Homo sapiens: one gene and its partner. The protein of the gene in region 1 interacts with the protein of each later gene in a pairwise test. Each region holds a gene or a part of one and is shown on either strand. Other genes may lie near its edges.

The links. The genes of interacting proteins can lie anywhere in the genome.
Region 2: the proteins of KRTAP3-1 (region 1) and NTAQ1 interact in binary tests that used the Homo sapiens proteins (3 or more experiments, as listed by UniProt).

The regions. Positions count from the first base shown.
Region 1 is NC_000017.11:41,007,874-41,011,271, reverse strand, and holds KRTAP3-1 (keratin-associated protein 3-1), read left to right. Parts: upstream 1-2,143; 5' UTR 2,144-2,197; coding exon 2,198-2,494; 3' UTR 2,495-2,751; downstream 2,752-3,398. UniProt on the Homo sapiens protein: In the hair cortex, hair keratin intermediate filaments are embedded in an interfilamentous matrix, consisting of hair keratin-associated proteins (KRTAP), which are essential for the formation of a rigid and resistant hair shaft through their extensive disulfide bond cross-linking with abundant cysteine residues of hair keratins.
Region 2 is NC_000008.11:123,426,715-123,430,468, reverse strand, and holds part of NTAQ1 (protein N-terminal glutamine amidohydrolase), read right to left. Parts: intron 2,546-3,754; coding exon 2,446-2,545; intron 487-2,445; coding exon 436-486; intron 1-435. UniProt on the Homo sapiens protein: Mediates the side-chain deamidation of N-terminal glutamine residues to glutamate, an important step in N-end rule pathway of protein degradation.

The DNA of each region.
Region 1 (3,398 bases):
TCAAAATCCTAAGTGTAGGATACTAAGCACAGTACAAATTCTTCATACTGTGGCACTAACCCACCTTTCCGTCTTCATTCCAACAGATTCAGAACCTATGCTTCAACCAGGCAACACTTTTTGTCATACCATGGGGGCCCTGTGGCATTTTGTTTCAATGGCTGAAATCTCCTTCCTATTTATTTCTATCTGCTCAGCTCCTTTTCACCCTTCAAGATCCAAACAGATGTTCTCTTTTTGTGAAGGGCTTCCTAAGTTTTCTAGGAGAAGTCTGTGGCTTCTACCTCTAAATTCTCATATCATAACCTGGAAAATCTAAATGTACAATCCTTTGTTATTGTTTGCTGGTTTACTTCTCTGTGTCTGTCTTCTTCTCTATGACCCCTGTAAGGGCAGGAGCCTATTGCGACTTTTTGCATGATGCCCAACATACAACAGGTGTTCAATCAATGAGCATTTTATATGTAAATTCTAATTTTGATATGTAAATATCTAAGAGAGATGTAAATTCTAGCATAGGAATCCAAAACTGCAAAATCATTCCAATAAGAAAATGGCTAAAAAGAAAGCAGTTTCATGCTAAGCATTTTTTTAATCCAACATCTTGTTGATTTGCATCTCATTTGGCTTCTGATTCCTCTGCATTGTGCAATTTTCTACTTTAGAACTTGAGCCATCTTATCTGAAAAAATGGGTCAAGAAAATATGTACATGTTTTTAAGCCTTTCTAAGTAAGCCATTTCTAAAGGTTTTACCAGTTTAGTATTTTTCATATTCTAAAGTAATTCTAAATCATCATACTAAATTTTCTACCTTTATCTACTTTTAAAACTTTATTTTTAGAGTTTTAGTGGTTTAGATGAAACTCGGAAATGTCTCTATTCTGGACCACAGAGCCTGGAAGTAAGACAGGGGTGTTCAATGTTTTGGCTTCCCTGGGCCACATTGAAAGAAGAATTGTCTTGGGCCACACATAAAATACACTAACACTAATGACAGCTGATGAGCAAAAAAAGAAAAAAAATCACAAAAAAATCTCATAATGTTTTAAGAAAGTTTATGAATTTGTGTTGTGCTGCATTCAATGCCTTTCTGGGCCACAGGTTGAACAAGCTTGCTGTAAGATGTTGCTAAATCTCCCCAAGTATGTTTCATAAAGCACTGACCTATAGAGCTAATCTCTGAAAACAAACAAAAAGCAGTCCATGGTCAAGTAAGTTTGGAGAAAAATATATGCTATATCTCTGTATTGAAAAGTCATAGAGCATTTTAGCACATTAAAGGCTCCGAGAGGCCCAACAATGAAGAATTCAGCATTTCCCAAACTTACTTACCAGAAAACACTTTCAAGTCCCTTGGAACCAGTGTTCATGGAACTCAGTCTGGTAAATACTGCATCATTTAGCTTCTGAATGGCCCAATACAACCAGCCTTTTGGTTATAAATAATCTCCATTTATAACACAGTTGGATGGAGCTTAAAGGACACCCATCTTTGTCACCCATGAAGGTCTTCATTCCCACCTGCATGTTCTTACCAAGTTATTGTTCAGAGCATATTTGAAAGGAATGCAGAACAAACGATTTGTTATAGCTCTGTTTGAAAGTGCCTCTTTACACAAAACCAAAATCTATTTCTCTATAGATTCTATCCATTCATCTTCATTCAGTTTATTGGAGCCACAAATAATAAATCTAAAATGTTATATCACTTTTTCAGCCTGAGGGCCTAAAGGATCACATAGAACCTGTAGTCACTGGTAGAACAGCAAACAAAAAGCTTACTTGTCCTCTTCATCTGAAAAGTAAACAAAAGAAGTGGGAAACGTTTGCAGATGCCTGGCATACCGAGCCATTATTAGTGAGGGTATAATGATTAGAAGATAATGGCCCGGTACCTTTGAAGACTGGAATGAAGATTTCTGTGTAGTGACACACTGGCAATGTGAATAGTCCTAATTTGACAACAAAACAACCTAAATCTCTTTTATGAGGTGAGCAGTGTATCTTAGGTAATAAACACTTAAGTAATTAGGCATTTTTTATGGAAATAACTATAAACTGAAACATGGGGGAAAAACCCTCAGTAATAGGCTGACGCCCAGGGAGATGGGTATATAAGAGCCAGAGCAGAAGAGAGGAGCATCGAGACACCAACAGACTTCTCTCAACTCAACAAAAACCCACCTCCCATTGCCATGTATTGCTGTGCTCTCCGCTCCTGCAGCGTCCCCACCGGCCCTGCCACCACCTTCTGCTCATTTGATAAAAGCTGCCGCTGTGGAGTCTGCCTACCCAGCACCTGCCCACATGAGATCAGCCTCCTTCAGCCCATCTGCTGTGACACCTGCCCCCCACCCTGCTGCAAGCCTGATACCTATGTGCCAACTTGCTGGCTGCTCAACAACTGTCACCCGACTCCCGGACTGAGTGGGATCAACCTGACCACCTATGTTCAGCCTGGCTGTGAGAGTCCCTGTGAGCCCCGCTGTTAACCAGCCGAGTCTGCACAGGTTCCGTGAGGTGGCTGCCCAATGTCCTCTGCACCATCTGGGCTTCAGCACTCACTACTGCCTACATCAAGGCTAAGGCCATCCCAATCCCCGGGGCCAAGTCTTGATGAATCTTCTTAATTATTTGCACATTTGGGTACCATTGGAGACCTCCCTTCTGTCTTTTAGGCTATTTCATCACTCTTTGAGAAATAACCATTTTGACCATTTGTTAATAAACTTTATTCTGGCTTAGCAAATATGACCTTGTGATTATTTATTTTCATGTCTCCCATTAGGGAAAGTGGAATGCCTACCTAAACCTGAACAGTAGGTTATCACACTATCCAAGATTTACCCCAACAGAATAAGAGCTCTCATAGTGGAATTTATCGAAAAAATAGATACTGGTTATTTGTGATAAGTTAAAAAGTAAAAAATGTGGTAGTTCATTTTATAGAAGCTTTTTATTTAACAGATATTTATTTAATAGATATTATTGGAAGACATCCACTGTGCAAGCACTATGCTAGAGTCTAGAGATTAACAGAATGTTTTAAAAATACTTGATTTTAGTTTCCATTGATTCTGACATTGATTTTTCTTTCTTCCTTAATTGACTAAATGAATTGATCACTGTGCTGGTGTGTATAAATAATTTGATTATCCTAGTCCTCACAGTCATCTGAAATTCTGAGCTCAAAATGCAAAGCAATTTTGAGAAGTGTATATATCCATTTCTTCATATATGCTGTCTTCCAAAACAATCCATTTTTAATTAATGTTAGCATTTATCGAGTATTCATTGATTCCTCAAATGGGGCTTACATTGGTTTACATTAGTCATGACTATGATTAGAAGTTTGCTAGTCTAAGTGACATATAATATCATGACATTGAAATATGC
Region 2 (3,754 bases), on another chromosome or scaffold:
TGTTTCGCCATGTTGGCCAAGCTGGTCTTGAACTCCTGGCCTCAAGTGATCCGTCCACCTTGGCCTCCCAAACTGCTGGGATTACAGGTGTGAGCCACCGCGCCCAGCCGAAAACTACATTTTTAACAGTCTCCAGATAATTCTAATGTGTAGCCAAAGTTCCTTCCTGTGCTAAATGGTAAGAGTCTAGATCACAAATATATCCACCATTTAAAATCATTCCTATAATAATTTCAAAACAAAAAGTTAAAAGAAAATATGCCTACAGTGTTTCTACCTTAGATCAAATAACATCTATTCTCAAAAGGTCAATTTATTAATAATTACCATAGCCTTTCTCTACTGCTTAGGTCACTTCTGCTTTACCAAAACATACAGAACACTAAGGGGTTACAAGTCATAATGCGTCAATACTCTCTGTATTAACTGTCTTACCCAGATCACAGGTCCATCTCCAGGTCTCGCCTGTTGTTTCCAGATAGGTATCTACAAAATACAATACATTTCGTAAGCCATACCTTTAGTTAAACCACTACTAAATTATTTTCCTTTTTTTTTTTTTGAGACGGGATTTTTTTTTTTTTTTTTTGAGACAGAGTCCTGCTCTGTCACCCAGGCTGGAGTGCAGTGGCACAATCTGGGCTTACTGCAACCTCCACCTCCCGGGTTCAAGCAATTCTCCTGCCTCAGTTTCCCAAGTAGCTGGGATTACAGGCGTGTGCCACCACACCCAGCTAATTTTTTATTTTTATTTTTTGATGAAGGGTTTTGACACAAGGTTTCATCATGTTGGCCAGGCTGGTCTCGAACTCCTGATCTCAAGTGATCTGCCCACCTCAGCCTCCCAAAGTGCTGGGATTATAGGCGTGAGCCACCGCACCTGGCCAAGACAGGATCTTGTGATGCTGCCCTGGCTGGAGTGCAGTGGCTACTCACAGGTGCCATCATAGTATACTGCAGCCTTGAACTCTTGGCTTCAAGAGATCTGCCCGCCTCAGCCGCCTCACAAGTAGCTGGGACTACAGGCACGTGTCACTGTACCTGGCTACTACTATTTAAAGCAATACATACATGAGAAATAAAATATTTTTAAGCATGCAAAAATCAAGGTGAAGGAATGAATGAAGAGGAAGAAATCGAAATCCTTCTAAGTATCCCCAACAATGAAAGCTCTCAAGAGCACTAGTTATTGTATGATGGTCTTTGGAGAGTGAAAAGGGATCTGAACTAGGAATCAGAAGTCCTGGCAGGTATCAAATCTTGCTCTCCCATTTAATTATTCATAGGGCCACCCTAAGTCTTAATCTCTTCATCTATAAAATGAAGAAACTTGTCCAAATATTGCCTGCTTCACAGGGCTTCCATTGGGATCAAATGAGATGATGCCTGCAAATGTGTTTTACAAAATATGAAGGGCTTACTTTTTCTAATTCTTCATGTAAGTTGACTGTAGTTCTATTTAAACTCCAGAGACAAATCCTTACTTTAAAACTGAGAGTATGCGTCTCTAAGCAATTTTTAAAAAGTCTACATCTTCCATCTTGAATTTAAAAAAAGAAAAAAAAATGGCCAGGCACAGTGGCTCATGCTGGTAATCCCACCACATTGGGAGGCCAAGGCAGACAGGTCACCTGAGGTTAGGAGTTCGAGACCAGACTGGCCAACATGGAGAAAGCCTGTCTCTACTGAAAATACAAAAATTAGCCGGCCATCGTGGTGGGACACCTGTAGTCCCAGCTACTTGGGAGCCTGAGACACAAAAATCACTTGAACCTGGGAGGCAGAGGTTGCAGTGAGCCGAGATCACACCATTGTGCTATAGCCTGGGCAACAGAGTGAGACTCCGTACCAAAAAATAAAAGAAAAAACAAACAAACAAACAAAAAAAAACAGGTCTACATTGATACCTAAAGAAAAGGGACTTTATCTGCGTAGACCATCACATATTTCCTTACCTAAAGTAAGGGACTAAGCTGGGCATGGTGGCTCACACCTGTACTCCCAGCACTTTGGGGGGCTGAGGTGGGAGGATCACTTGAGGCCAGGAGTTCGAGACCAGCCTGGCCAACATAGCAAAACCCCATCTCTACTAAAAAATACAAAAATTAGCTGGGCGTGGTGGCACATGCCTGTAGTCTCAGCTACTTGGGAGGCTGAGGCAGGAGAATCGCTTGAACCCGGGAGGTGGAGGTTGCAGTGAGCCAAGAATCACGCCACTGCACTCCAGCCTGGGCGACAGAAGGGACTCAACTCTTCTAACTCAATCGTGCCTTGTAAGGAAAAAAATCTCATTCAAAAGCAAGCTTTTAAATGTTGCTGTATTTAATAAAGCACACTTCAGAAGAGTACTACACCCATGCTATATTTAGCTTTTTTTTTTTTAATTTAGCTTCTAATGTCATCCTAAATCTCTTGTTTTCTTTCTGCAATCACTCACCAACTTACCATCTTCCTCTCATTAGATATGAAGACAGCATAACATTCTTCTAAAGGATACTGGTCATGGTTTTTGATGTATTCACAGAGCTTCCAAATATTTTCTTCACTGAAATAAAATAATTGTTTAATCAAGATTAGAGAACATTCTATGTGTCTTTTAAATTTGAACAAAATACTGATGATGACATCAAAAAGTTGGAAAAGACCTTAAACCCCATGTCATCCAACAACTGGCTAATGTCTGAATCTCCTCTAAAACATCCCAACAAGCTGGTATTCAACCTATACTGTGTGTAAACCCCTCTCCACACAGAGCTAATTACCTCCCCTAGCAGTGCTTGTACATGGAGGCATTTTATAACTGATAAAATATGTCAATATTCTATGAGTTTTGGGCCCAGCAACTTGTAATACAGCTGAAATTCTAACTCAGCCACTTACAAGGTAAGAACCTTTGACAAAGGCCAGGCGTGGTGGCTCAGGCCAGTAATCCCAGCACTTTGGGAGGCCGAGGCGGGCGGATCACGAGGTCAGGAGTTCGAGACCAGCCTGGCAGAGAGACCAGCCTGACCAATATGGTGAAACCCCGTCTCTACTAAAAATACTAAAATTAGCCAGGCATGGTGGCGGGTGCCTGTAATCCCGGCTACTTGGGAGGCTGAGGCAGGAGAATTGCTCGAACCTGAGAGACAGAAGTTGCAGTGAGCCAAAGATCACACCACTGCACTCTAGCCTGGACAACAGAGCAAGACTCCAACTCAAAAAAAAAAAAAAAAAAAAAAGCTTTGACCATCTTGACTTCTCCAAGAATCTGCTTTTCTCATGTGTAAAATGGGCATAATCATATACTGTAAACACACAAAAATCTTAGTTAACACTGGTTCCCTGCTCTCTTTAGAAATGGGGCAGGATGGGTGTTTTGGGTTGAAAGCCTCCTGGCTGGAAAGAATCAGGAGCAATTATGTGATATGTCCGGGAACTCATTTGGGGGAATCCCTGTGAGTGGGATTCCCCATGCCCCTCTAGTAAGAAAGGGACATAATTTTATTTTTTTTATTTATTTATTTTTGGAGACAGAGTCTTACTTCACTGCCCAGGATGGAGTGCAGTGGTGTGATCTCGGCTCACTGCAACCTCCACTTCTCAGGTTCAAGTGATTGTCATGCCTCAGCCTCCTGAGTAGCTGGGATTACAGGCGTGCAGCACCACACCCAGCTAACTTTTGTATTTTTAGTAGAGATGGTGTTTCACCATGTTGGCCAGGCTGGTCTCAAACTCTTGATCTCAAGTGATCCACCTACCTCAGCCTCCCAAA